4 linked regions of the Homo sapiens genome follow. The protein of the gene in region 2 purifies or fractionates together with the protein of the main gene of each other region. This does not show direct contact. Each region holds a gene or a part of one and is shown on either strand. Other genes may lie near its edges.

Evidence for each region. Proteins that work in one complex are often made in the same cells at the same time.
Region 1: the proteins of PHAX (region 2) and FLNB purify together in Homo sapiens (affinity purification with mass spectrometry; one large-scale study listed by BioGRID and IntAct). This does not show direct contact.
Region 3: the proteins of PHAX (region 2) and G3BP2 fractionate together in Homo sapiens (co-fractionation; one large-scale study listed by BioGRID). This does not show direct contact.
Region 4: the proteins of PHAX (region 2) and LIMD1 purify together in Homo sapiens (affinity purification with mass spectrometry; one large-scale study listed by BioGRID and IntAct). This does not show direct contact.

Annotation. Positions count from the first base shown.
Region 1 is NC_000003.12:58,168,922-58,172,421, forward strand, and holds the end of FLNB (filamin-B), read left to right. Parts: intron 1-668; coding exon 669-872; intron 873-1,575; exon of another isoform or gene 1,576-1,653; coding exon 1,654-1,841; 3' UTR 1,842-2,855; coding exon of another isoform or gene 2,856-2,952; 3' UTR 2,953-3,149; coding exon of another isoform or gene 3,150-3,240; 3' UTR 3,241-3,330; downstream 3,331-3,500. Other genes in the region: uncharacterized protein LOC124909485, read left to right, coding at 2,856-2,952, 3,150-3,240. UniProt on the Homo sapiens protein: Connects cell membrane constituents to the actin cytoskeleton. May promote orthogonal branching of actin filaments and links actin filaments to membrane glycoproteins. Anchors various transmembrane proteins to the actin cytoskeleton.
Region 2 is NC_000005.10:126,613,471-126,618,701, reverse strand, and holds part of PHAX (phosphorylated adapter RNA export protein), read right to left. Parts: intron 1,453-5,231; coding exon 1,369-1,452; intron 1-1,368. UniProt on the Homo sapiens protein: A phosphoprotein adapter involved in the XPO1-mediated U snRNA export from the nucleus.
Region 3 is NC_000004.12:75,645,912-75,649,411, forward strand, and holds part of G3BP2 (ras GTPase-activating protein-binding protein 2), read right to left. Parts: intron 2,831-3,500; coding exon 2,728-2,830; intron 1,247-2,727; coding exon 1,118-1,246; intron 546-1,117; coding exon 427-545; intron 1-426.
Region 4 is NC_000003.12:45,681,751-45,684,295, reverse strand, and holds part of LIMD1 (LIM domain-containing protein 1), read right to left. Parts: 3' UTR 1-2,545. UniProt on the Homo sapiens protein: Adapter or scaffold protein which participates in the assembly of numerous protein complexes and is involved in several cellular processes such as cell fate determination, cytoskeletal organization, repression of gene transcription, cell-cell adhesion, cell differentiation, proliferation and migration.

The sequences.
Region 1 (3,500 bases), on a different chromosome or scaffold from region 2:
TACGTATTTGTTTAGATCAGGGTCTGAAAAATCCCCTGATTTCTAATTTTCACTTGAAAAATAATCAAAAAGTTTTCCTATACTTATAAAAATGTGTCTCCTCCAAAACACTGGAAAAAATACCAAACTATGAAAACCACTTCACAGCCACCACCCAAGGTAACCACCATAAACACTGTAGTAAATCCCTTCCACACGTCATGATTCACTGTTACATAAAGAATGTAGGTTCATCGCAGGAAAATTAGAAAATTCAGATAGAAAAATCATCCTTTCTCATCCACAGAATCATTTTTTGATATTTCATTATATGTCATCCCAAACTTTTACACTGCTTATACATAGACTATTTTATGTCAATAGAAAGATGTGAATTCCACAGGCACATCTTTGGTGGGTAGGGGGTGGGGGGATTGGGAGGGTCCTTGGCCTTGTCAGCCAAGGCCAGACTCATCCATTTGCCCAGAAAGCCAGATCCTAGTTGTATGGGGGTGGGATCCTAGGGGTTTAGAAGACATTATGGGTGTGAGATACAGGTGTGGTGGCTTTTGTGTTGGGGTGCGCGGGCTCTCCTGGGGTTACTGTGTAGGGTACTCGCCTGTCCTCTGGCTGAGAGACCCCTCTTGATCTGGCCATTCATGCCTGTCCCCCTCCCTCCTGTATCTTAGGCCAGCGTCTAGTTAGCCCTGGCTCAGCCAACGAGACCTCATCCATCCTGGTGGAGTCAGTGACCAGGTCGTCTACAGAGACCTGCTATAGCGCCATTCCCAAGGCATCCTCGGACGCCAGCAAGGTGACCTCTAAGGGGGCAGGGCTCTCAAAGGCCTTTGTGGGCCAGAAGAGTTCCTTCCTGGTGGACTGCAGCAAAGCTGGTAGGTGTCTGGGCCTTTTCAAGGGTGGGGTGGGGCAGGGGCAGGCTGGGCACCCTGGGTACACTGGCCTTCCCTGCTGAGGTCTCCTGCAGTGCCCACCCCCATGTAGGCCAGCCGTTTGCAAGTAACCATCGTCATGACCCTGTTCTCCTGCACTTAATATTTTTAAATGATTTCCTTCTCTTTTGCCTTTTGAACTTGGGTATTTATTTGGGTTTCAAGGGTCGGTTGCCTGGGTTCTGGCATCCAGTACACCTGGGCTGGAAACCTAGTACCGCCACTTCATTCATTCATTCGTTTGTTCTAAAACTTATTTAGCCATGTGACCTTGGAAAGTTATTAAATCTCTTTCCAAAAGTCAGTTTCCTCTTCTCGGAAGTACCTTCCTTAAGGTGCTTGTGAGAGTAAACAAGAAGATTCTCATAGCCAACACTTAGAATAGCCCTTACTGTGTGCTAGGTTTTGACACCCATAACTCTTAAACCTCACAACTAGTTCGTGAGGTATGTGCTGTTCTCATTCCCTGTTTACAGATGGGGAAGCTGAGCTAGGGAGAGGTGAGATTCCAGTCCAAGGTCACCCAGGTAGCAAGTGGCAGGGCAGGGATTCGAACCCACACCGTCAGGCTCTATGAGCCTCTGCTTGTAATTGCCACGCTCTCCCACCTCTTAGGGGCCCCAGCATTATCGTGGAAGCACCTTACCTTTGGCTCTCATATTTCCTCTTCTTCCTGTGCCTGTCCTGATGCATCCGGGTGGAGTAACCACCTTTTGCCTCCTAGGCTCCAACATGCTGCTGATCGGGGTCCATGGGCCCACCACCCCCTGCGAGGAGGTCTCCATGAAGCATGTAGGCAACCAGCAATACAACGTCACATACGTCGTCAAGGAGAGGGGCGATTATGTGCTGGCTGTGAAGTGGGGGGAGGAACACATCCCTGGCAGCCCTTTTCATGTCACAGTGCCTTAAAACAGTTTTCTCAAATCCTGGAGAGAGTTCTTGTGGTTGCTTTTGTTGCTTGTTTGTAATTCATTTTATACAAAGCCCTCCAGCCTGTTTGTGGGGCTGAAACCCCATCCCTAAAATATTGCTGTTGTAAAATGCCTTCAGAAATAAGTCCTAGACTGGACTCTTGAGGGACATATTGGAGAATCTTAAGAAATGCAAGCTTGTTCAGGGGGCTGAGAAGATCCTGAGTACACTAGGTGCAAACCAGAACTCTTGGTGGAACAGACCAGCCACTGCAGCAGACAGACCAGGAACACAATGAGACTGACATTTCAAAAAAACAAAACTGGCTAGCCTGAGCTGCTGGTTCACTCTTCAGCATTTATGAAACAAGGCTAGGGGAAGATGGGCAGAGAAAAAGGGGACACCTAGTTTGGTTGTCATTTGGCAAAGGAGATGACTTAAAATCCGCTTAATCTCTTCCAGTGTCCGTGTTAATGTATTTGGCTATTAGATCACTAGCACTGCTTTACCGCTCCTCATCGCCAACACCCCCATGCTCTGTGGCCTTCTTACACTTCTCAGAGGGCAGAGTGGCAGCCGGGCACCCTACAGAAACTCAGAGGGCAGAGTGGCAGCCAGGCCCACATGTCTCTCAAGTACCTGTCCCCTCGCTCTGGTGATTATTTCTTGCAGAATCACCACACGAGACCATCCCGGCAGTCATGGTTTTGCTTTAGTTTTCCAAGTCCGTTTCAGTCCCTTCCTTGGTCTGAAGAAATTCTGCAGTGGCGAGCAGTTTCCCACTTGCCAAAGATCCCTTTTAACCAACACTAGCCCTTGTTTTTAACACACGCTCCAGCCCTTCATCAGCCTGGGCAGTCTTACCAAAATGTTTAAAGTGATCTCAGAGGGGCCCATGGATTAACGCCCTCATCCCAAGGTCCGTCCCATGACATAACACTCCACACCCGCCCCAGCCAACTTCATGGGTCACTTTTTCTGGAAAATAATGATCTGTACAGACAGGACAGAATGAAACTCCTGCGGGTCTTTGGCCTGAAAGTTGGGAATGGTTGGGGGAGAGAAGGGCAGCAGCTTATTGGTGGTCTTTTCACCATTGGCAGAAACAGTGAGAGCTGTGTGGTGCAGAAATCCAGAAATGAGGTGTAGGGAATTTTGCCTGCCTTCCTGCAGACCTGAGCTGGCTTTGGAATGAGGTTAAAGTGTCAGGGACGTTGCCTGAGCCCAAATGTGTAGTGTGGTCTGGGCAGGCAGACCTTTAGGTTTTGCTGCTTAGTCCTGAGGAAGTGGCCACTCTTGTGGCAGGTGTAGTATCTGGGGCGAGTGTTGGGGGTAAAAGCCCACCCTACAGAAAGTGGAACAGCCCGGAGCCTGATGTGAAAGGACCACGGGTGTTGTAAGCTGGGACACGGAAGCCAAACTGGAATCAAACGCCGACTGTAAATTGTATCTTATAACTTATTAAATAAAACATTTGCTCCGTAAAGTTGCCTTGGTGTTCTTGGATGATGTCGCTTCTGAATAAATTGTTTAATCCTAGGAGTTCAACACCCTCAGCCTGGGTAACAGCAAGACCCAGCCTCTACAAAAAATTAAAAAATTAGCCAGCATGGTGATGCATGCCTGCAGTCCCAGCTACTCAGGAGGCGGAGGCAG
Region 2 (5,231 bases):
GAGCAAGACTCCATCTCAAAAAAAAAAAAAACAGTTTTTAAAAAAAGACTTTGTTTCCAAAAATTAAAAAAAAAAATTTAATTAAAAATATATAATACAGGAGGAGATACAACAAATGGAATATGGAAACCTAGACTGTATTCTGCTTAGGGGGAAAGTATATAAAATATATTCTTGGGACAAATTAGGAAATTGGAATAAGGTCTAGATATTGAATACTATGAAATTGTTTTTATTTCTCTTAGGAGTGATAATGGGTCTTGTGGTTATGTAGGGTATTGTCATTACTGGGAGATACTTTTTTTTTGTATTTTTTTTTTGGTGGGGGATGGCACCAAGCTGAAGTGTTAACTGTACACTCACTCCAGACTCATTGCCTGCCCTTACGCTTGTTCAAATAATTAGAACTAAGCATCTGATGCTTGTTATTTATTTCCACATGGAACAGGAAAAGACTGTATAGGCCAGGCGTGGTGGCTCATGCCTATAATCCCAACACTCTGGGAGGCTGAGGTGGGTGGATCACTAGAGCCCAGAGTTCCAGACCAGCCTGGGCAACATCTCTACAAAAAATACAAAAATTAGCTGGGTGTAATGGCATATGCCTGTACTCCCAGTTACTCTGGAGGCTGAGGTGGGAGGACTACTTGAGCCCAGGAGGCAGAGGCTGCAGTGAACAGAAATTGCGCCACTGCACTCCAGCCTGGGCAATAGAGCCAGGTCCTTAGACCCTGTCTCAAGGGGAAAAAAGAAAGAAAGAAATAGAGAAACAAATAAAAAGTGTATAGGTAAAGAAAGAATGGTTCATGCCTGTAATTGCAGCACTTTGGGAGACTGGGGCAGGAGGATTGCTTGAGCCGAGACGTACAAGACCAGCCTGGGCAACACAGCAAGACCCCGTCTCTACAAAGAATAAAAGGCTGGCTGGGAGCACTGGCTCACGCCTGTAATCCCAGCACTTTGTGGGGGCCGAGACGGGCGGACTGCTTGAGGTCAGGAGTTTGAGACCAGTCTGGCCAATATGGTGAAACCCCGTCTCTACTAAAAATACAAAAATCAGCCAGGCATGGTGGCATGTGCCTGTAATCCCAGCTACTTGGGAGGCTGAGGCACGAGAATCACTTGAACCCGGGAGGCGGAGGTTGCAGTGAGCTGAGATCATGCCACTACACTCCAGCCTGGGTGACAGAGTGAGACTCCGCCTCAAAAATAAATAAATAAATAAAAGGCATAAATGTTACTTAAGATAATAACAAAATCAGTCCACTGAAGGCAGAACAGGTAATGCATATCCATAGAAAATGAAGGTAGAGGGTGAGTAGAAGTCAAATTATGATGGCGCTTAAGAGGTGAGGACATTATCATTACCTTAATTTGTTCCTCGCTGATACTAGGAGTGTTTTTCAAGAGATTCAGAAAAACTCCACCTGGTGTTCTTCTTCGACTACCATTCTACAAAAAGGAACAGAAAAGGTAAACTGCATATACTCTTCCCATAAATGGTCAAGGCATCTTTTAACAGAGACACAATTAAGGGGATAGAAGAAATACCAGATCTGAAGTCCAGTCCTGATTCTGACTCTTACAAAATAGGTAACATGAGTAAATTACCGAAATATGAGTTTCAGTTTCTTCATCTATAAAATGAAGGCCAAAAATATTTGGTCTTTTTTAATTCTGAAATTCCGTGATTTAAAAAATCTATATGGTAACAAAGAGAAATAGGCCACTCAGCTCAAATGACCTAACAAATGACTGGATTTTCTGTTTTAATCTGCCACCTGGCTAAGTCAGTGAATATTCTTTTTTTTTTTTTTTTTTGAGATGGAGTTTCACTCTTTCGCTCAGGCTGGAGTGAAATGGCGCGATCTCGGCTCACTGCAGCCTCTGCCCTCCGGGGTTCAAGCGTTTCTCCTGCCTCAGCCTCCTGAGTAGCTGGGATTATAGGCACTCCCCACCACGCCTGGCGAATTTTTGTATTTTTAGTAGAAACGGGGTTTCGCCATGTTGGCCAGCCTGGTCTCAAACTCCTGACCTCAGGCGATCTGCCCGCCTCAGCCTCACAAAGTGCTAGGATTACAGGTGTGAGCCACCGCACCCACCATGAATATTCTATTAGATGTTAAAACACATCATAAACTCTAAATAATTAAAACAGTATGGTTCCAAAATAAAACTAGAATGATCAGTGAAGCAAAATAGAAAACCTAGAAAAAAAAGCCAAATATATATGGGTATTTAGTCTATGATACAGATACTATCTTAAATTGGAGAAGATAAATGTATTATTCAAGAATTGGCATTTGAGGCTGGGCGCAGTTGCTCACGCCTGTAATCCCAGCACTTTGGACGCCGAGGCGGGTGGATCACCTGAGGTCAGGAATTCAAGACTAGCCTGGTCAACAACATGGTGAAACCCTGTCTCTATCAAAAACACAAAAATTAGCTGGGCATGGTAGCACATATCTGTAATCCCAGCTACTTGGGAGGCTAAGGCAGGAGAATCACTTGAACCCAGGAGGTGGAGGTTGCAGTGAACCGAGACTGTGCCATTGCACTCTAGCCTGGACGACAAGAGCAAACCTCCATTTCATTTTTTTTTTTTTGAGACAAAGTCTCATGCAAACCTCTATTTCAAAAAAAAAAAAAAAAAAGTTGGTGGTTGAGCTACTGGGTAGCCACCATGGAAAATATTATGTTGGATTCACACCTCATGTCTTATACCAAGATATATTCCAAAGGGATCAAATATTTAAATGTATATATATAATAAATCAGATATATATACACACATACAGTGGCTTCTCAATAGTCATGGTAGTTACGTTTTATAAAGTTGCTGCAAACATTGAATTAGCAAATATTGAAACATTCCTTCTGAAAAATACAGGGTTAGGTTCCTGAAAGCCTCTGATAGACAACACTTTTGTCAACAGATCAGTATATAACCTTGTATGTATCTTGGTTTAAAGACACCTTATTGAAAACATATTGTTGATTCATTAACATTGAATTAGTGGCCAACAGCCTATAACTCATGCCTAAACGATGCTTATCTAACCATATTTTCTCTCTAACGCATGTCACAGTCTTCTTGCACTTAGAAACACTAGTTGGCACTACAGCACTACCCTTGGAGGGGCCATTTTAAACAGCAAAATCCCCAGAGGGGCGCAAAAAAAAAAAAAAAAAAGCACAGAATGTGAAAAAGATGGCACTAAAATAGACCTTGAAAAGAACACCTGTTTATAGTATGGAAGCTGAAACAAAGCAATGTTGCCCTGTTTGACCTCAGCTAAGCATGTGCATGTCGGACAACTCAAATTTTTTTAGACACTGCACATCTGTGAATGACTGTGAAACCACCACTAGTATTGATTTGAGGTTATGAATAACTTTTACCAGGTAGGCAAATTTGAAAATATAAAATCTACAAATAATGAGGATCGACTGAGCATGTATGTCATATACACATAGTCATATAAATTATGATATAACTATTCACTGGAATGCTAGCAACTGCAAAAAAGAATGAGGGGGCTCTCTACATACTTGATAAGGTTTCTAAGAGAAATTAAGTTAAAAAAAAAAAGCAAGGTATAGAATAGTATGCATAGTATATGACCATTTGTGTAAAAACAAGTGTGTTAGGGCCGGGTACGGTGGCTCACGCCTGTAATCCCAGCACTTTGGGAGGCCAAAGTGGGCAGATCATGAGGTCAGGAGTTTGAGACCAGCCTAACATGGTGAAACCTTGTTTCTATTAAAAATATAAAAATTAGCTGGGCGTGGTGGTGTGTGCCTGTAATCCCAGCTACTTCGGAGGCTGAGGCAGGAGAATCGCTTGAACCCGGGAGGCAGAGGTTGCAGTAAGCCGAGATCGCACCACTGCACTCTAGCCTGGGTGACAGAGCGAGACTCCATCTCAAAAAAAATAATGGGTGTTGGAGAGGAGTCTGGGTGGCTCAAGGATAGGTGTGGTCCGGGTAGCCTCTCACTACACACTCTTTTACTGATTTTTTATTGTGATAATAAAGACATGACAAAAAAATTTTGTCATCTTCACAATTTTTAAGTGTACAGTTCAGTAGTAAAGTATATTTACACGGTTATAAAACAGATCTCCAAAACTGTTTCATCTTGCAAATCTGAAACTCTGTACACATAAATTTCCCTTAGCCTCCTCCCTTTAGCCCTTGATACTCTTTCTTGTTTTACCATGTGAACTGGTTGCCTATTCAAATAACTGAATTTTTAAAAATAAGGAAATAGGTACATATACACACTTGTGGCCGGGTGCGGTGACTCACGGGTTGGGTGTTGGGTATTATACCCAACACTTTGGGAGGCCGAGACGGGTGGATCACTTGAGGTCAGGAGTTTGAGACCAGCCTGGCCAACATGGTGAAACCCTGTTTCTAATAAAAATACAAAATTAGCTGGACATGGTGGGATATGCCTGTAATCCCAGTTACTCAGAAGGCTGAGGGCAGGAGAATTGTTTGAATCTGGGAGGCAGAGGTTGCAGTGAGCTGAGATGGCAACACTGTACTCCACCCTGGGTGACAGAGCAAGACTGTCTCAAATATATGTTAATTGCAGAAAAAGTAGCAAAAACATGCGGTTAAAAGAAAAAATAGGCGGGGTACAATGGCTCACACCTGTAATCCTAGAGGCAGATGGATTGCTTGAGTGCCCAGGAGTTTGAGACCAGCCTGGGCAACATGGTGAAACCCTGTCTCTACAAAAAATACAAAAATTAGCTGGGCATTGTGGCTTAAGCCTATAGTCCCAGCTACTTGGGAGACTGAAGTGGAAGGACTGCTTGAGCCAGGGAGGTCGAGGCTGCAGTGACCTGCGATTGTGCCACTGTACTCCAGCCTGGATGACAGAGTGAGACCCTGTATCAAAAAGGAAAAAAAAAAAGAAAGAAAGAAAAAGAAAAGAAAAAAACCACCCATGATCCTACTAACCATAGGTAATCACTGTAACATTTTGACACATATAATCTTTTTACTTTTTTCTGACACAGTCTCGCTCTTCACCCAGGCTGAAGTGAGGTGGTGTGATCATGCCTCACTGCAGCTCGACCTTCTGGGCTCAAGGGATCCTCCCACCTCCTTAGCCTCCCAAGTAGCTGGGACTACAAGCATGTGCCACAACATACAGCTAATTTTTGTATTTTTTTGGTAGAGATAAGGTTTCACCATGTCACCCAGGCTGGTCTCAGG
Region 3 (3,500 bases), on a different chromosome or scaffold from region 2:
GTGATACTCCCACCTCAGCCTCCTGAGTAGCTGGGATTATAGGTGTCTACCACCATGGCCGGCTATTTTTCTTTTTTTGTAGAGACAATGTCTCACTGTTGCCCAGGCTGGTCTTGAACTCTCCTGGGCTCAAGCAATCCTTCTGCCTTAACTTCCCAAAGTGCTGGGATTACAAGTGTGAGCCACTATACCCAGCCAAAATTCTTAACATGCAATCTTGCAATCTTTCCCACCTTCTTCAGCAAAGCAAGTAACAAAATTTAAAATGATCTGCAAACTAACAAATCTTTATTCTTTGCATAAATACCATTTAATAACTATTTTTAGCTTTATTATTAAAAGATTTTCTATGGTTTTTAAATACCCCAAATTAATATATACAACAGAAATAATAAAGTCTTGAATTATGCCCTTTAAATCACTTACTTTTGCAATTAAGATTCTCTGAACTGGTTCAGAGTCATCAAAAACCACAAAACCAAAATTTGGAAGCTTTCCCCCAACACCCTTGGTATTGATGCGAAGTTCCACAACGTTTCCAAAACCTGTGAAAATATACATTACATCAAGGGTTAAATATTTTTAACAGAATACCTTGATGGCTCTAATTGTTCAGGATGAATATCGTTATCTCCCCGATCCATTTTAAAATAAAACTCGCAAGCTTCTACACACAGTGATAGCCAAGGTACGTTTACTCAAGCAGGCAATCCCCTAAGATACCAAGTAGCCTGCCCGCCTGCTGTGTTACCTTTCTGCATCTTTGGTAGTCCTTTCATAAGTAAAGTTAACTGCATAATTTTGGAAAGACAATGTATTTTCTCCTAATATATTGACCCATTTGCCAAATGAATCCTTTATCTCTGAATTTATGACTGATTTATCCAGCTGTTTCTTCTAAACACTACTGAGCCAGGCCAAATCAACACTAAGCAGTCACTGAGAAACATGTGAGATAAGTCATCTACTCCCTTCTGCACAATTAAGGTGGGTCTGGTAGCTGGACACAGTATAAAGAGAGAAACATTTAAAAAAAATAGTTATTAAAAAAGCTCCATATGCCTCTTGCTTAATTTAAAATAATTTAAAAACTCCAACAGCAAAATAAATCACTTACTCATGAAGAATTCCTTTAGCTCATTTTCATCAATATCATGTGGCAAGTTACCAACAAAAAGTTGATGACTATCTGGATAGCGAATTATTCTACGGTTGTCAGAGTCATTCTGTTCCATATCTCCTCTGCCTGAGAATAGAAATAGAGCAGATACTAAAGTTTACAATATCATAAAAACTACTTCAAAGGAGTGAATGTAAAAATCACTTAATATTGATATTCCTGTTTTAGTTTAATAAGACTAGGTGAGCTTCTTGAAAAAGAGGCAAAAGTACTTATTACTAGTAGGTTAGAAAACAGCATGACACTAAAATGTAAAGTGAGGACAATGACTAGGTTGCTAAAATAGCTTCTTCTAGATCTACTGGATTATACAAAAATCAAATATTAGTACTACAGGTATTCCTCCTTAACCAAACTGTTGCCATCACCCAGGAACCAAGCAGATTTCAGATAGTGAGGTATAGCTTACTAAATATTTGCTTAGTTTTTTGAAATTCAAAATTCTTTGGCTTTATGACATTACAGCAATCAGTAAATTTTAACAGCAATCATCACATTTATGCAGTCTATACATATTAAGTGTGTATGTATATAGATATACATAAAATCTTATTTGATTCTCCCAATAACACAAGGAACACAGTGAGGAAAATAGGCAATACAAGAATAATTTGTGTAATATTTGACATAAAAGAAGCTCAGAATTTAAGGGTTTCACTCAAGATCCCAAGTTTAATCACTGACAAATTTAGGACTTCTAGTTTGGTAACATATCACTTTAAAAATTCACATTGTAAATGTGATATATACTATCTCCATCTCTCCCATCTCCTCCCCAAAGCAATCTAAACATTCTTACAGAGTTCAAATAAAAGTATTACATGTGTAGCTAACAAGGTAAACAAGTCAAAAATCATGGCAACTTACTTAATACCTAAGAATCAAAATGGGCTTATTGTTTATCTGTAAAGAGATAAGACTGCTAAGAGAGTAGGTTATTGGCAGCTTGGTTTTGAACTCTTAAAACCAGTGACTAGGCCGGGCACAGTGGCTCATGCCTGTAATCCCAGCACTTTGGGAGGACGAGTAGGGCAGATCATGAGGTCAGCAGATCGAGACCATCTTGGCCAACATGGTGAAACCCTGTCTCTACTAAAATACAGAAAATTAGCTGGGCCTGGTGGCGTGTGCCTGTAATCCCAGCTACTTGGGAGGCTGAGGCAAGGGAATCATTTGAACCCGGGAGACAGAGGTTGCAGTGAGCTGAGATCACGCCATTGTACTCCAGCCTGGCGACAGAGCAAGACTCCGTCTCAAAAAAAAAACAAACAAACAAAAAAAAAAAACAAAAAACCGTGACAATAACCAAATAAGACTTAAGTCTTTTACACCTTCAAAATATGTCACCATGGCATGTCAACCAATCCTCCCTAAAAATTGGTTATTTGGCCCCAGACACTATTTAGCAGGTTGCTCACATCACATCTTTAAGCAATTTGAGACTATATGGGTCTGTGTATAGAACGCATCATAGTTTTTTGTTTAAGTTCAGTCTTTTACAGCCTTACAAATGTTAAATGCTAAAGGCTATAAAGGAGCTGACTCACCTGGTCTTGGTCCTCTAGGAGGAAAACCAGGTCGTTCTCTAGGTCGTTGTTCACGCACACGAGGTGGCTGAGATTGAACTTCTGGTTTAGCTTCGACTCTTGGCTAAAATATAAAGAAAAAAAAACATTATAAAAAACACTCCACTGGAGAAAAACCAACCAAAGCACCTAACGACAAGTCACTAGCAGACATAACAGTAGTTTTAAGTTTAGAATGTTTTTAACATAGTGTCCTATGTATGAGAAAAATAAATTTTTATCAAGATATTCTGTACCAATCTAGGACTGTAGGTAGCTTTTGTTTTCCCACTTAATGCTGTGTAACTCACAATAAGTTGCTTTTTACAGTCACATTTTTTCATTAAAGTTATATCAACACTGAAATAGCATAAAAGGTATTGCTACCAAAAAAAAAAATCACAAAAATGCAAGATGAACCACTCCATGTAAATACATAAACAAAATTAAAAGCCATCTTCATCTTAGACAAGAATACATAACACATAATTTCTGAAAATCTAATTTGCTATCCTTCAAATGTAACAGTGCTCAGTAGTATTGCCTAAATCTCTGCCCATAACCTTAAAATCAGTATTTTTATAGTTCAAAGTATAAAAATTAGCTTGCTCTAACACCTGAAATTGCTACCTGTAAGGTTAAAATGCATGTTAAAAAAATGACAGAAACTTATAGGAACTTGTATGTAGCATCTCAAATAGTTAAAGTCCTTTAGCTCCCTACTGTTCTTCCTTATGAGAAAAATATGCATTTGA
Region 4 (2,545 bases), on a different chromosome or scaffold from region 2:
CAGGGCCCAGAACCACCTGTCCTTGAGAGCTAGGATTAGTTGGAGGGACATGTATGTGACCAAGTGGTGGCAGTCCCTGAGGCTGCCTTACACACCTGGACGTATCCACATAGCCAGAGATTCTCCTAGAAGTGTCACACATCTAGGGCTGTCGCCTACCTGGGAACTTCTAACCAGATCTCTCTGACCATAACCCACAGAGTATGACCTACTCTGTTTTTTTACACCTAGAGTACAAGGTCTCAATCATGTTTGTGTAGGAAGCATTTCTGTTTTCAATCCAGGGAAAATTGCAAACCCCCACTTTCAGGGATTCCTGAAGAAAAGGCACCCAATAACTTAGGAATATTCTTTCATTTCCTCTCAAAAAACGTTCGTTGGAGTCTGTGGTAGGCTGACTAATGCTCCTCCTGTTACCGGTGGAGGGTGTCCAGGTTCTTGGCGTCTTGATAAAGAAATGGACAAAACGCACAAAGCAAGTAAAGAATGAAGCAACAAAAGAGATTTATTGAAAAACGAAAGTACGCTCCACAGGGTGGGAGCAGCCCAAGCAGCTCAAGAACCCGGTTACAGAATTTTCTGGGATTTAAATACCCTCTAGAGGTTTCCCATTGGTTACTTGGTGTACACCCTATGTAAATGAAGCAGAGGTCCATGATCAGTTTGATTGGTTGTGGGAGGGGACCAATCAGAGGCTGAAGCAAAGTTACAAAGTTACACCACCCTATACAAACATCTGACTGGTTGTGTAAAACGCCCAATCAGAGGCTGAAGTTACAAAGTTATACTCCTAGGCAAATGAAGACTTGGCCTAAGACCAGTCTGATTGGTTGTGGGAGGGGATCAATTAGCGATACTTTCAATTTTTCACCTGCCATGCAGAAAAGGGGCTGGGGGTGGGGAGGTTGCAAAGGGAGTAGCCTCTGGTCCTTTTGTTACTTGAGCGTGGAAAGTTGGGGTTTTCCTTTTGACTTAGTTCTAGGAAGTCAGCCTGAATTGGCCTTAGGAAGCCAATTCCATGCCTCCAGACCCTATCTCCTGCTTCCCTCCCCTTCAGAGATGTCCCTGTCCTCCTCACCAGAACCTGTGAATATCTTATTCTGCAAGGTAAAAGAGGCTTTGCAGATGTTATTAAGAATCACAAAATGGGAGATTATTCTAGATTATCTGGATGGGCGTAATCCCAAGTGTCCTTACAAGGAGGCAGGGAGGGTCAGAGAGGAGGTGTGACAATAGAAGCAGCCAGAATGATGCAGCCACAAGCCAAGGAAAATGGGCAGCCTCTAGAAGCGGAAAAGGGGCAAGGAATGGGCAGCACCCTATAGCACCTCTGGAAGCAATTCGCTTCTGCCGACAACCTTTGGCTCGTGTCCAGGATGACAGAATGATATATTTGTGTTGTTTTAAGCCACTGAGGTTGTGGTAATTTGTTAAGAGTGGCCATAGGAAACCAATACAGACTTCAACAGAGCAGCAGTGAGCTTCTCCTCACAGCCTCCTGTGGCTTTTTGACTATGTAGCTTTGATGAAGAAGTATACTGATGGACAATTTACTGCCTCCCATCAACCAGAGTAGTAGAGTGGTCAAGACAGCACCCTCTGGATGAGATGGCCTGGGATGGAGTACTTACTGTTTATTTCACCCTTTTGTGTCTCAGTTGTCTTGTCTATCAAATGAGGGATGATAAAGAACATACAGTCCTTGGAATAACATCTGCTATGTGATGAGCACACGGGAAATGCCAGCTATTACAGCTGCTACTGCTTCATCACAGCACTTAGAACCAGACCAGATACCCCACTGCCCAGTCCCACATGGCCCAATGCCCAAGGCTGACTCTTAGGACTATGCCATCTCCTCCCAATCCCTGGTGCCAGGATGCCTTGCTGGTAGCTGGAAAGTGGCCATGGCGGGAATATTTACATCATAGGTATCAGCAAACACTCCATATCAAGGCTTTTTAATTTTTTGCCCCAGAGGGCTGGTTTGCCAGCACACCACAACTCCAGACCGCCTTTTACCCTGATTGCATCTTCACTCCTTATACCATCAAGGTCTTAAGCAAATAGCAGCCCATGTTGGCAAAATCAGACTAGCCATTCTCTCATCACTTAAAAAGAAAAAAAAAACTTTTATTCTGGTGTAAGGTGCTATGACTATGAGTATCCTCACTCCCAGCTTTCCCGTGTCCTTGGCACGTCAGACCTGGTAGCCACAAGGACTACACTGGAGTCTAGAACAAACTCTTTCCCCACCCCAAGGATTCTAACCACACACTTGGCCCCAACACTCTACAAGTCCTGTCTTCCTGCATGTGGCTGTCTCAAACCTGAAGGATCACTCGCCTTGAGGATTCTTTGGTCATAACCTCAGAAGAGAAAAAACAGTAACATTCACAAGAGAGACAAAGTGACCTTACAAGTCACTGCATCAGGACCTTACAAGTCTCAATCTTAAAGGTCCAGTAAAAGAAACTGCTGATTCTTGGGATATGATTCTCCAAGGCCTCTCACATTTTTATACATCTGGTAAGAATAGACACCA